Linked DNA regions of Homo sapiens. Changing the gene in region 1 together with any one later gene gives a genetic interaction. Each region holds a gene or a part of one and is shown on either strand. Other genes may lie near its edges.

Evidence for each region. A genetic interaction does not mean that the proteins touch.
Region 2: changes in FBXW7 (region 1) and NCAPD2 together harm fitness more than expected from each alone (negative genetic interaction), as found in Homo sapiens cells (one large-scale study listed by BioGRID).
Region 3: changes in FBXW7 (region 1) and UBE2S together harm fitness more than expected from each alone (negative genetic interaction), as found in Homo sapiens cells (one large-scale study listed by BioGRID).
Region 4: changes in FBXW7 (region 1) and CDK1 together harm fitness more than expected from each alone (negative genetic interaction), as found in Homo sapiens cells (one large-scale study listed by BioGRID).

What each region holds. Positions count from the first base shown.
Region 1 is NC_000004.12:152,410,324-152,414,327, forward strand, and holds part of FBXW7 (F-box/WD repeat-containing protein 7), read right to left. Parts: intron 2,207-4,004; 5' UTR 2,157-2,206; intron 1,550-2,156; 5' UTR 1,481-1,549; coding exon 980-1,480; coding exon of another isoform or gene 950-979; exon of another isoform or gene 837-949; intron 1-836. UniProt on the Homo sapiens protein: Substrate recognition component of a SCF (SKP1-CUL1-F-box protein) E3 ubiquitin-protein ligase complex which mediates the ubiquitination and subsequent proteasomal degradation of target proteins.
Region 2 is NC_000012.12:6,528,602-6,532,101, forward strand, and holds the end of NCAPD2 (condensin complex subunit 1), read left to right. Parts: intron 1-77; coding exon 78-255; intron 256-343; coding exon 344-438; intron 439-911; coding exon 912-992; intron 993-1,173; coding exon 1,174-1,357; intron 1,358-2,089; coding exon 2,090-2,216; intron 2,217-2,319; coding exon 2,320-2,475; intron 2,476-2,725; coding exon 2,726-2,811; 3' UTR 2,812-3,354; downstream 3,355-3,500. UniProt on the Homo sapiens protein: Regulatory subunit of the condensin complex, a complex required for conversion of interphase chromatin into mitotic-like condense chromosomes.
Region 3 is NC_000019.10:55,399,245-55,402,016, forward strand, and holds the end of UBE2S (ubiquitin-conjugating enzyme E2 S), read right to left. Parts: intron 2,519-2,772; coding exon 2,192-2,518; 3' UTR 501-2,191; downstream 1-500. UniProt on the Homo sapiens protein: Accepts ubiquitin from the E1 complex and catalyzes its covalent attachment to other proteins. Catalyzes 'Lys-11'-linked polyubiquitination.
Region 4 is NC_000010.11:60,777,293-60,781,277, forward strand, and holds the start of CDK1 (cyclin-dependent kinase 1), read left to right. Parts: upstream 1-1,185; 5' UTR 1,186-1,278; exon of another isoform or gene 1,279-1,376; intron 1,377-2,848; 5' UTR 2,849-2,873; coding exon 2,874-2,910; intron 2,911-3,985. UniProt on the Homo sapiens protein: Plays a key role in the control of the eukaryotic cell cycle by modulating the centrosome cycle as well as mitotic onset; promotes G2-M transition via association with multiple interphase cyclins.

The DNA.
Region 1 (4,004 bases):
TCTGAGCCTTAACAAAGTGGTGCTATAGTTGTTAGTGGTAGAGCCATCTGGCTGAGATCCAAAGCTACTGCTTCAACATCTTGAGACAGGGATGGTACAATGGATGAAAAATCACTACTTGATGTCACGTCCTTCTTAGATCATGCCAGCTAAATAAAATCTGACTTGCAGATAGGCTAGGTAAATTAGGGCCAAACACATTTTAGAAAGTAAGGTTTTACAAGCAGATGTAAAACATGATTTAGCATTTCAATTATTATTAATCCAAGTGTGTAAGATACTTCATTCCAAGTCAAGTTAGGTTAAACGATACGATGTTAAATCAGTTTGTATATTGTTTATGGCCTAAAATCACTGTAAAATGTAAGAAATAAGCAAGTAGGAGTAAGAGGATGAACTACCACAGACATTATGTTAATGTCTATAAAACAAGTATATTCAAGTTAAAATGTTCCTTTCCAAAACATAGTTTAACTTGTAAGTCTACTCTACATGAATATTCATTATTTCTAATTCTCAAATGATAAATAACTAGAACTAATTTGAGGCAACTTCTGAGTAATTTATGCCTTAGAGTGACACTTGTGAATAGCCCACTCTAGCAGCTGCATTTTGTAAATAAAAAGTTTCTTCATTACTTGATTTACACAAATCATGTTTCACCCGAAACCTCTACACCCCACACAAGCTACTAATCCCTGCCCGGGACGCAAGGTTTAGACGAAAATTTGATGTTAATAATTTTTCATAGTAATAGGCTCAATTACTTTCCCTCCATTTGTACTCAGATTGTCCCATTATCAGTATTTCTACTTGTAATACTTTCCATTACCTTCTGTAAGACAAAAAACTAGTTCATTTTATTATTACACATCTTAAGATTAATTTTTAGTAATACAAAGACTGTGAGGAAAGTTTCATTACAATTAAAATAGATATGTAAAGTTTCTCAGGTTAACAATATATTGAATATACTCACTTTTGTTGTTTTTGTATAGAATGGGGAGGAGAGTTGGTGAACGGGCAGGTCCACAATACTACTGGAGTTCGTGACACTGTTAGTATGTGTATGTTCATCTTCTCTGCTACTATCATCAGACTGATCAAAATCGTCACTCTCCTGGTCCATCTCCTCCTCCTCCTCATCCTCCTCATCTTGTTCACCAGCATGTTCTTCATCTTCCTCTTGTTCTTCTTGGTTTCCTGAGGAGTCCTCATCTACCGAAATAAATCTATTATTGTTTTCTTCCAACTGTCCTTGCTGGGAATCATTTTGGCCTCCAGGTCTAGGTTCTACTCCAACAACTTCACCATTCCTTGCAGTGTGCTCCTCCTCTTGTTGTCTGAGTTGCTGTTGCTGTTCCTCCTCTACCACACGATTCATCTGTTCTTCATCTACCTGGCTTGAGGAAGGGTTACCTCTCAGAGAGCCTCCAGTTCGTCGTCTTTTGCTGCCCACAGAGAGCAGTTCCTGATTCATTTCCAAAAGCCAGCTTGCTACTTCTTGGACCTTGGCTAGACTATCAGAAGATGCAAAGGTTTTCACATTCTGCAGGGGAAAATAGGGTAAAAAACAAGATTTGTACAATCTATATTATGTTCTACTTTCATGTTATATGTCTACTTTCTAAATATCATTAATGATTGCAAAAAAGTATTGATGCCACCAAGGCATTAAAATGTTCTTTAGTAAACAATATAGAACATTTCAATTTTAAAAGTTATAAGACTTTATAAAGACATGCACAAAAACCATAGTAAACAACACTAATCCCTTTTAATAATTTTTAGCATGAAGATTTATAGTTTAATTCCTTTGACCAATAAAACATAATATTTCAAGCAAATAAAACAATTTTAATTTTACATCAGTAGTTCATAGACTATATCCTATATAAAACTTCCACAAAATTTTAAGAAGTGTATCAAAAAAAATTTTCAGTGTTCAGTTAATTTGGGAAATGCTGAGGTAAATCAGATTAAAAGGCTTTTTACCCTGGGTATTTCCCAAACTTTTCTGATCACAGAATCTTGCCTTCAGACACAGTTTTCTAGCAGGTAACAATTATAATCATTATTATTTTAATTTTTTTACAAATGACTGGACAGAAAATGAACAAAAAATTTATTTAAAAAAAAAGTTCATAAGTTCATACCCTCTGACCCAGTAACTCCACTTCTGGCAATCTATCCTAAGGAAGTAATCCTAAAACAGAAAAAAAAAATTTATACAGAGGATGCTCACTGCAGTTTATCCACGAAAGCAAAAAATAAAGATAAAAATAAATGTAAATAAAAATGTAAATAAAAATCCAAATGTTCAATATAAAGGAATCTATGAGATGGGATATATATGGTGTAATCCCTAAACATGACGTTCATAAAATATTTTTAAAAACATGGATGTTATAATATATTATGCTAAGGGGAAAATGCTGGAAATTGTGATTATAGTATGATTTTTAAACTGTATGAAGACTAGAAGACAACATTTCAAAATAAACTGCATCTTAGGCAGTGGTATTACTGATGCTTTAAACTTACTTCTTTTTATCATATTTCTCAATTTTTATATATCAAGCATGTTTGCCTTTATGTTTTTTAACCTAGGCTCTAGAATTTTATCTGATACAGCATCTTTTCATGATATTCATTCTTACATTTTATCCTTTGCTGGTATCTATATGGACATCTTTGAAGTCAGATAAAATGCCAACATGTTGTGCACACACAAGAAATTATGCACCCGTGATCTAAAACTTGAAACTGCTAACAAATGAAGTATTGTCAATTCTAGTCTTTTTCAGAGAAAACCTTTAGTATGATTTACAACAGTGTATCATAAAACACAAACATCAACAAACAGAAGCCCATATCCTAAAATTTGAGGAAGGTCTTTTATTTCTTCCTACCATAATACAAAATGTCAAGATATATCAAATATTAATATAGAACTTATTATTTTATCGGTAACTGATGTGACTGAACTTGAGTTCAGTAAAATAAAATCTGATGGCTAACAAACAACATTAAGTTGCATGGTTTTCTTGGCAACTGGACATGATGGGAATAGAAATGATTCAAGGTCAGGAAGAATACTAATAAAAGAAATAGAATTTTAAATTGAAAATGTTCCTCACTTTGCAGGCAAGGTAATCAAGGCTCAAAATGATTTAGTAAATTTCTCAAGATTACTAGTTTCAAGTAAAGCAGGGACAAGAATTTAACACCCAACTGAGTCTCCTTTCATGCACCTTAAAGTAACTACATAAAATCCTGAAAGAATATTATTCTCTAACACTGATACTGCCTTCTTTTCCAAAACTCGAATCACTACAATACTCAAAGATTATTACTCTAAAACAAATTATTTGCTGAGCATTCAATATGCTTCCTGTACATGTCAATTTTCTGGAGGATAATGTTTAGAATAATGTCTCTTTCAAGTTAACCAATGACATTTCATCTTTTTTGACCAGAACCCACAGTAAAATTATGTTTAACATCACAACTCTGCATGCATGCATTTAAACATATTAAAACAGTGATTTCAGAGAAAGGGAATTATGAAACATTTCTGGTATCTAAAGTCCCTATAAATCACCACCGTTAATCAAATACAGTTGATTCCCATTCACAGTAATTGTGTTCTATAAAATTGCTGCAACCACTGAATTAACAAATACTGAGCCATTGCTCCTAGGGGAAATACAGTTCTCACAAGCCTCTGGTCACAACACTGTTGCCAACTGATCAATGCATAACCTTTTTTATGCGTGTTTCTGCCTAAATATATCTTTAATATACATTGATTCATTAGCATCGAACTCATGGTCAACAGCATTATAACTAATGCCTGAATTAAGTTTCTTTAACACACATTAGTTTATCTTTAAGGCAAATTACAGCCTTCCTGCACTTCGGAACATTAAACAGAACTTCAGGCTATGTTTGGGGGCCATTCTAAACTGCACAATCACTAACAAAAAGCACCAAAATGAGGA
Region 2 (3,500 bases), on another chromosome or scaffold:
TGCTGAGGGCCTTTTCTACCAGTGTTAGGGTGTAGCCCGGAGGTCTCGGTCCCCATGACCCGCAATTCCATTCCTAGTCTCCGGGACCCTGCTCAGCAAGTGCGGAAAACAGCGGGGCTGGTGATGACCCACCTGATCCTCAAGGACATGGTGAAGGTGAAGGGGCAGGTCAGCGAGATGGCGGTGCTGCTCATCGACCCCGAGCCTCAGATTGCTGCCCTGGCCAAGAACTTCTTCAATGAGCTCTCCCACAAGGTGAGAGGCAGAGAGGCACTGAGGGCTGGCTGCAGAGGGAATCTGTAGGTCACCTCATCTCCTTAACATGGCTCTCTCTGTCTTACAGGGCAACGCAATCTATAATCTCCTTCCAGATATCATCAGCCGCCTGTCAGACCCCGAGCTGGGGGTGGAGGAAGAGCCTTTCCACACCATCATGAAGTATTGCTCCCCGGGCCCTGGGGCACATTTTCCACATAGCACGGGCTTAGGAATCAGACACACCTGTATTTGAATTCCACCTCGGCTACTCTTTAGCTGTACAGCCTTCGGCAATAACTTAGCCTCTCTTTGTGCCTATTTCCTCTTCTTTTGAGGCTGATGATACTTAACCCTTAGTTCTTGAAAATATTAAATACGATAAAGTTCCTAACATGGTGGCAGACATACAGTAGCACTCACTCCCTAGCAGCTGCTCCTGTTAATTTCCATTCACAGTGAAAATTCCTGAGCCGGGGGCGGGGTGGGGTCCCTCTCTGCTGAATGGGACAGGGCAAGGGGAGTGGTGAGGCAGACAGGGGCCGTGGCAGAGAACATCAGAGAAGACGAGTGCTGGGGGAGGGTCCAGGGTTGGTCTTAGTGGATGGCAGAGCTGGCCCTGGGCCATCGAACATCCTCATCTCCCCTTCCTGCAGACAGCTCCTCTCCTACATCACCAAGGACAAGCAGACAGAGAGCCTGGTGGAAAAGCTGTGTCAGCGGTTCCGCACATCCCGGTATGCTGCCCTCCCTGAGGGTTCTTTGTGCTGAGCGGGGCCCTGCAGGGGAGAAAGGCCCATCCCTCACCCCTTCAATGCCCCCACTGTGGCATCCCTGGGACTGGGGAGGCTGATGGGGAAGGTTGAGCCTTTACTAGCTGGATCTCCCAGTTCCTCACAAAGCCCTTCCTATCTGCAGAACTGAGCGGCAGCAGCGAGACCTGGCCTACTGTGTGTCACAGCTGCCCCTCACAGAGCGAGGCCTCCGTAAGATGCTTGACAATTTTGACTGTTTTGGAGACAAACTGTCAGATGAGTCCATCTTCAGTGCTTTTTTGTCAGTTGTAGGCAAGCTGCGACGTGGGGCCAAGCCTGAGGGCAAGGTGAGCAGCACAGGACACTTCAATGCCTGTTGGGTTCTGGGCTGGCTAAGACATCTGCCGGCCCTGGGCAGCATACGGCTCTTGCAGTCACCTTCCCGTCCTCCTTATCCCCAGCTGGGTTGCAACCAAATTGCCAGAGTGACCTAAGACCAGATCTTTGTCTCCAGTTCTTTTTTTATTACTCCAAAAACACAACCAAAGCAGCATCTCATCCAATTCTTGTTTGTTTGTTTTTAATAGTTTTTATTTTTCAGAGCAGTTTTAGGTTCAAAGCAAAATTGAGCAGAAAGTACAGGGAGTTCCCTTCTACCCCTTGCCCCTACACATCACAGCCTTCCCCACCTTCAACATCCTGCACCAGGGTGGCACATTTGTTACAGCTGAACCTACACTTACACATCATCTCCTAAAGTCATGGTTTACCTTGGAGTTCACTGCACGTAATGACATGTACCCACCATTGCAGTATCATACAGAAGAGTTTCACTGCCTTACAAATCCCCTGCACTCCACCTATTTATCCCTCTCTCCCCACAACCCCTGATCTTTTTACTGTTGCCATCACTTTGTCTTTTCCAGAATGTATCATTGGAATGATCCGGTATGGAGCCTTCTCACCTTGGCTTCTTAGTAATGTGCGTTTAAGGCCTCCATGTCTTCCATGGCCTTGTTTCTTTTTAATCAGAAGTAACTGTTTTCAGGCCTGCTCTGAATCTCCTTTTCTCCCTCCAGGCTATAATAGATGAATTTGAGCAGAAGCTTCGGGCCTGTCATACCAGAGGTTTGGATGGAATCAAGGAGCTTGAGATTGGCCAAGCAGGTAGCCAGAGAGCGCCATCAGCCAAGAAACCATCCACTGGTACGTAAGGCAGCCTGTGCGGGCGAGACCAGACTGGGCCCTCCCCTCCTGCAGTGATTTGTTTCTTCTTCTTTTTTAAATCACGTTTTCCTGCCTTTTCTAGGTTCTAGGTACCAGCCTCTGGCTTCTACAGCCTCAGACAATGACTTTGTCACACCAGAGCCCCGCCGTACTACCCGTCGGCATCCAAACACCCAGCAGCGAGCTTCCAAAAAGAAACCCAAAGTTGTCTTCTCAAGTGATGAGTCCAGTGAGGAAGGTATGATGCTCCCGCCTGTTCCCGGCCGAGAAGGCACACAGCTAGGGTGCAGAGGGCTGGTTTCCATAGGACCTGCTGCGGGGGCCTGAGTGTAGATGCTCTGCCCCACTGCCGCAGAAGGGCCTCTCCTGTACAGCTTGGATTTTATTTCTTCTGTGCGGTGTGGGATTGTCTCACTTGTTCTCTGATATCTATTTTTTCACCATCTTTGTGACTCAGCTTTTTCTTATTCCTTTAATTCTTTGCATAGATCTTTCAGCAGAGATGACAGAAGACGAGACACCCAAGAAAACAACTCCCATTCTCAGAGCATCGGCTCGCAGGCACAGATCCTAGGAAGTCTGTTCCTGTCCTCCCTGTGCAGGGTATCCTGTAGGGTGACCTGGAATTCGAATTCTGTTTCCCTTGTAAAATATTTGTCTGTCTCTTTTTTTTAAAAAAAAAAAAGGCCGGGCACTGTGGCTCACGCCTGTAATCCCAGCACTTTGCGATACCAAGGCGGGTGGATAACCTGAGGTAGGGAGTTCGAGACCAGCCTGACCAACATGGAGAAACCCCATCTCTACTAAAAATAAAAAATTAGCCGGGCGTATTGGCGTGCGCCTGTAATCCCAGCTACTCAAGAGGCTGAGGCAGGAGAATCGCCTGAACCCAGAGGCGGAGGTTGTAGTGAGCCGAAATCACACCATTGCACTCCAGCTTGGGCAACAATAGCGAACCTCCATCTCAAATTAAAAAAAAAATGCCTACACGCTCTTTAAAATGCAAGGCTTTCTCTTAAATTAGCCTAACTGAACTGCGTTGAGCTGCTTCAACTTTGGAATATATGTTTGCCAATCTCCTTGTTTTCTAATGAATAAATGTTTTTATATACTTTTAGACATTTTTTCCTAAGCTTGTCTTTGTTTCATCTTTCACATTAGCCCAGTTTCATGCAGCAGAGAGAGGGTTATCAGTGCAGAGAGAGATGAGTGAGCCCAGAGTCCTAGGGCCTGTCCCGGGATGGCAGATGAGCTTCCTGCCCC
Region 3 (2,772 bases), on another chromosome or scaffold:
AAACCTCTGTGTCCCAGGTTCAAGAGATTCTCCTGCCTCAGCCTTCCAAGTAGCTGGGATTACAGACATGCACCACCACGTCCAGCTAATTTTTGTATTTTTAGTAGAGACAGGGTTTCACCATGTTGGCCAGGCTGGTCTTGAACTCCTGACCTCAGGTGACCTGCCCGCCTTGGCCTCCCAAAGTGCTAGGATTACAGGCGTGAGCCACCCCACCCAACCTTGTTTAGTGTTTTAACGGAGGTTTCATTACATGGGCATATTAGACAAATCATTGACCATTGGTCATTGACCTCAACCTTCAGCCCCTCTCTTCCCAGAGGTTGGTAGGTATGGGTGGGGCTGAAATTCCCAACTGTCTAATTCGGTCTTGGTATTTCTAGTGACCAACCCCCTTCCTGAAGCTACGCAGGGGCCCATCACAGATGGCTTCATTAGGACAAAGACTGCTCCTATTAATACCCAGGAGATTCCAAGGGATTGAGGAACTCTGTCAGGGCTAAGGGCAAATATTATTTTTATTATGCACTTCGCTAAATTATTTCAGTGGGTTCCGAGGCCCAGGATGCAGGCACCTTCCTTCAGCAAGGACTGTTTGCTTCCCTCATGCAGAAATGGTTGACGATAAACGCAGAGCTTAAGATTTCTTGGATGGCCAGTGATGTGAATTTGATCTGAAAATCTGAAGGGTTTCTTCCCTTGTCTTTCCTTCGCTCCCTGCACTGCTAGAGGTAGAGAGGAGTGCAGACTTTTGGTTCCTTTTCTCCCTTAGCTTGGGAGATTGTCACTGGAGGCAAGGGCTCAAGGAAGGGTCAGACCCCTTTCAGAGGCTGAGCCGTTTCAACCTCAGCTGTTTTATTAGAATAGGCAAATTCTTTCAGGACAAAAGCAGCCTTTGAGTTTTCCACTCTCCTATGGGTCAGAACTTGTAGATTTTTATTGTAAATGTATTTTACTTTTTGTAGAGATGGGATCTCACTGTGTTGCCCACGTTCGTCTTTAACTCCTGGCCTCAAGTGATCCTTTCACCTCCTAAAGTTGGGATTACAGGCGTGAGCCATTGCGCCTGGCCTATTTTTAATTTTTTTAAAATTAATGAGACATTGGTCTAAATAACCTAAACGCATTAATAGAATGGGAAGTTTCCCCACCCCCTGGTGTGCACACCCAGGTTAATCCCTTCCCCTTGAGGGCAGAAACTAAGACTAAGCTGGGATCTTACCCCTGTGATTTAGTCATTATCACTTAAGTATCTGGATGGGCCTGACCTAATCCGGTGAGCACCTCAAAGGGAATGGGCCCTTAAATCAGACCTGCCAGGGCCCAAGGAGGGGCAGCTTCTTGGAGCTAAGACCCTAGTTCTACGAGGACTGAAATCAGCCAACAACCATGAGCATGGAAGAGGACCCAGACTAAGGAACACCAACAACCAATACCTCAATTTTAGCCTGCAAAGCACTGAGCAGAGACTAGCTCAGCCGTGTCCAGACTTCCAACACAAAGTCTGAAGTGGGTGTTGTTTTAAGCCGCTGGCTTTGTGATCTGTTGTGCAGAAATACATGTGGGAACAGGCTTTGCTGCCCACAAGGGAAAAACCAATCTTTAGCACAAAGCAGGATCAGATGATTCAAGGGGACCGAACCTTGGCCCAGTCCAGAACCAGACAGACGAGGCGAGCCTCATGCCAGACTGCTGGCACCTGGCCGTCCTGAGCAGGAACACCACTGCCACACCAACGTGGCCATTATTCTAGAGGGAGAAGTATAGGGCAGTGCCGCTCAGGCCACCAGGAGCAGCTCCAGGTCCTCGCCCCATTTTAGATTGGAAATCTGACTCCAAAGAGGGGTTGTGACCGCTCTACCTCCACAGAACAAAGAGGTGGACCCAAACCTCAAACAGCAAGGCTGGTGAGCTAGATGGACCCACTGCTGCAGTCCATGAGGCTTTACAAGGACCCAGGGCCTGTGCAGGGGAGCCAAACTCCCAGAGCCACATGGCACCATGCAGCGGTCCTGGGGCATCTGTGAGACACAGAAGCTGCTTTTCCAACTTTATTTAGAAAAACAAATCCAGGTCCCAGTGCCCCCTGTACCCTCCCCGACCCCAGCCATAATTTAAATAACTTAGAGACAGAGTTGGAGGGAGGGGACAGGAGAGGTTGGGGTCACGGTGGAAGGAGGAAGAGAGCCCACTACAGCCGCCGCAGCGCCCGCTTCTTGTCCGTCTTTTTCTTGGCCGCCAGCTTCTTATCGCGCTCGCCAGCATGCTTCTTGGCCATGGGACCCTCAGCCCCTCCCGGGCCCCCTGGGGCCCCAGGGTCGGTGGAGGAAGCTTCAGTGCCACTGGCCAGGGCCCGACCGGCTTCGGCCCTGCCGCTGGGCCCGCCGGCGCCCCCGTGGATCTCTGTGAGCAGACGGGCCCGAGCCGCATACTCCTCGTAGTTCTCCAAGAGCAGGCGGCCCGCCTCCTCGTTGAGTGCAGACTCGGGGTTAGGGTGGATCAGCAGGCACTTGATGGTCTGTGGGAAGAGGCTCAGGGTCACAGTGGGTCGGGCAACCTACAGGGACCCCCAGGCCTCCACAAGAGGGTGGCCTCCGCACTGGCTGTTCCTTCTGCTCCCAACTCAGCTGCAGATCCAGGCCCCACCTATGCTGCATCCTCCCTCATCTTTGCTCCTGTCTCCCTCAGAGGCCACCTTCATGTGACCTGCCTCACAGCAGATGTTCCCAAAAGGACACGATGCCATAGGCCCAATGGTTTAAAATGTCCCTG
Region 4 (3,985 bases), on another chromosome or scaffold:
TACTGTTCTATTTGTTTATTTTAAAAAGATTTTAGAATGGTGTTTAGGTTGGGCTGGTGGCTCACGCCTGTAATCTCAGCACTTTGGGAGGCCAAGGCAGGAGGATTGCTGGAGCCTAGGAGTTGGAGACCAGCTAGGGCAACATAAGGAGACATTGTCTCCGCAAACAAACAGAAAAAAAAAAAGTAAGAAAGAAAGAGAGAAAGAAGGAAAGAACAAGAAAAAGGAAAAAAAAATTAACTGCAGTAAGTGCAGAAATCTCTCTCAAGGATATGATGGATGGCAATGAAGACAGAGTTTTTGACACTGGATTATTTAAAGCATAATTTAAGCCTCTTTCTCTCCCCTCATAGAATTGTGAATTTTTGTGTTTTAATTATATTTAAGCCAGGCGTGGTGGCGAGTGCCTGTAGTCGCAGCTGCGCTGGAGGCTGAGGCCGATTGCTTGAGCCCAGGATTTGGAGGCCAGCATGCGCAACATAATGAGACCCAGTCTCTAAATGCATGCCTCTCTCTATATATTTAAAATTCTGATGTGAAAATATTTTAAAATTTAATACATTTCAAATGTTTTTAATTGTATAATAAACAAAATGTAAATAATAAAATAATTTAATATTAAATTCAAAAATGAGGTAGAAACAAAGCACAGCGATATAAATAATAAATTTTCCTTTACATTTTTGAGGCGGTCTTTTGAGTTTTCCATTTCCTTCTTAAGGTCACTGAAATGTGCTCCTTGGAGCCAGCCCGCAAATCACGCATTTAGAAAAACATAACTATACACTCCTAACCCTAAGTATTAGAAGTGAAAGTAATGGAATCTCGATGTAAACACAATATCACTTTTTTGATGAGCTATTTTGAGTATAATAAATTTGAACTGTGCCAATGCTGGGAGAAAAAATTTAAAAGAAGAACGGAGCGAACAGTAGCTTCCTGCTCCGCTGACTAGAAACAGTAGGACGACACTCTCCCGACTGGAGGAGAGCGCTTGCGCTCGCACTCAGTTGGCGCCCGCCCTCCTGCTTTTTCTCTAGCCGCCCTTTCCTCTTTCTTTCGCGCTCTAGCCACCCGGGAAGGCCTGCCCAGCGTAGCTGGGCTCTGATTGGCTGCTTTGAAAGTCTACGGGCTACCCGATTGGTGAATCCGGGGCCCTTTAGCGCGGTGAGTTTGAAACTGCTCGCACTTGGCTTCAAAGCTGGCTCTTGGAAATTGAGCGGAGAGCGACGCGGTTGTTGTAGCTGCCGCTGCGGCCGCCGCGGAATAATAAGCCGGGTACAGTGGCTGGGGTCAGGGTCGTGTCTAGGGGACGGCCGAGGGCCTCGGAGGGCGAGTATTGAGGAACGGGGTCCTCTAAGAAGGCCGGACTGGAGGTCAGGGATCTGCGCGGGGCCCGGCTGGGCCTCGGGGGGCGGTGGGCAGGGCCTTCGCCTGGGTCTGGCCGTGTGAGCCACACTGGGCTGGCTTTAGAGGGAGGCTATGGGAGCCCAGCCTGGCGGGGTTAGGCGGCGTGGGGGTGGGGGTTCGGGGCTGCAGTCATGAGTCGAGGTCGGCTGTTCTCAGGAACTGCCTGAAGAGGCTTTCGGGTCTTGATTGAAGCAAAATCCGCTCCCCCACGCTGAGCGCCTGCGGAGTAGCAGGCTCTTTCCTGGGCCCGGCCCCTGCGCGCCCTGCCATCCCGCCTCGGGGGTGGGAAAGTGGGACCGCACCTGGGCCAGGTACAGGCGCGGGTCCCTAGAGCCAGGCCGCCCTGAGAAACCGATCCTGGAACTCGTGGGCCTTCTTGGGCTTGCTCTGCCCACGGCCCCGGCCCACCTGGAGCTGTTAAGAACAGTCAGCCCAGGCACTTAACTCTCATGAGCAGTGTAGTGCAGTTTTTTTCATTTAAAAAGATACATCTCTGCTTCTTTCTGGATTGATTTTTCTTTGAAGATGAATGTGAGAAATAGAACTTAAAGGTCTATTCTGAGTGTGCTTTATAAATGATTTTATCATCAGTGATGGGTGTTAGAAAAATCTAGGTAATTATGCCTGGAGTTCTGACGTTTCATTGGCAAACTTCAGAGGAAGTCTTGAACTTCTGGTTGTCAGCTTTTTTTTTTAACCCATTCATTGTGATTCAAGTATACCGTTTTTCTGCTTAGTCCTTGACATTGTTTAGGTTATAATTAGAATTTTATCTGTGGAATTGCACTTTTCATTCTTTTGTTTTACGGTGCTTAAGTGATATTTCCTACTCTTGGAAAAAGTACCTTGAAAGTCTTGAGCATGTTTGTCTGTGACCTCAGCAAGCAGAGGAAAAAGATTAAAATTGTCACGTGGGCAACTGTAAACACTTAAAATGTTTTTGTCGTTTTAAACAAAATTTTCCTAATGAACAGTCTGAACACATTTTAGTTCTGTCCTCATAACTTTAAAAAATAATGTTTTGAATAAAATTAGGAGTATCATAAAGCGGTATAAATTTGTTGAAATATTTGGGTATAACTTTGGCACACGCAGGTACTACTTTAAAGTGTCACAAAAAGGGAACATAATTCTGGTTTTTGTTTGGAAAGAATAGACAAGTTGATACCTGAATTTGAGGGTTATTTTGATTGGAAGAAGCTAAATACTACACTAGTATAGAATATACACGTTTCCAATGTCTCAGGAGTCAAGAAGGATGGAAAGTTATTGTAGGAGTCCTTACCCTTGTAAATATTGTTTGAATGTAATTAATATTTATGGAATACTTATGCTGCAGTAGGCACTGTGGAAAATGCTTTACATATAGTGTTTCATTAATGCTTAAAACTACTCGAGTTAGTGGCATGTAATTAAGTCAGTTTTTCCTTCACTTTAGGATCTACCATACCCATTGACTAACTATGGAAGATTATACCAAAATAGAGAAAATTGGAGAAGGTGAGTGGTTTTAGTAAAATAAATTTTATGGAATGATTTAACAATGCTACAACTTCTGTAATATGAACACATTTAAATATTTATTAAAATTCAACCATTAAGTTGTCTTGTAGTACCAGTGTGCATTAACATATGTTCTTTACTTAATAAACGCAAATTTGCTCACATTTCAAGAGAATTGAAATTACCGAATCCCTAATGACCGTTCGCCTCACCCCCATAGTCTTACAGTCTTCTGATACTAAACACTTATAGTAGTACTTGTATTTTGAAGACACTATTGATAACTTGCATGTGTGTTGAGGGGCAGAGGTTAGGGCTGCAGAATTATGCTAACTTCATAATATATTTTTAGTTTTAGTCTCTTTCAATTGTTTTTAGGATGATAAATATTTTTATCCAGACTTTATAGACTGGTTACAATAATTGACTTAATCTAATTTAAATAAAATTTCTATTTAGTTACCCTAAGTATAAATGACCTGTCATATAGACATGTTTAAGCTATTCTAAAATTATAACTTATGTATATAATCCTTCCCTTTCTGTGGTACTTGAAGGAATGTTTAGATCTATATATGGCACAAATGAGGGGTATATCCCTTCGCCTGTTCCTCGACTCCAGCAGAACATTCTCGATTCTCCAGGTACAAAATAATTTGCTAATAGAATCCAGTTTATATAGGTTCTGCCAGAAGAAAATTCCCAACTATATTTTTAATGTGATCAAAGACCCCACTTGACAAGAAATAGTGAAAAACAAGGGGGAATACTGGAGGGAATTTAGTGGAATAGGAGTGACAAGTTAGTGTGGTGTTCGATTGGAGGTGTGTGTGTGTATACATATATATATATATTTTTTTTTTAAATCACTTAAATACCTCATACCCATTCTACTAAACAAATTTTGCTGCTGAATTAAAAATATGTGATTAGTATGTCTAATGCTGTGTAGTGTGTTTCTTAAATTCCCAGAGAATTTGTGTTGGTTTTAGTTTGGCATAAAAAGAGACCTTCTTAAAGTATAAATATATTTTTCTTTAAGATGATAGAACTCCAAACATACAGGAGACTG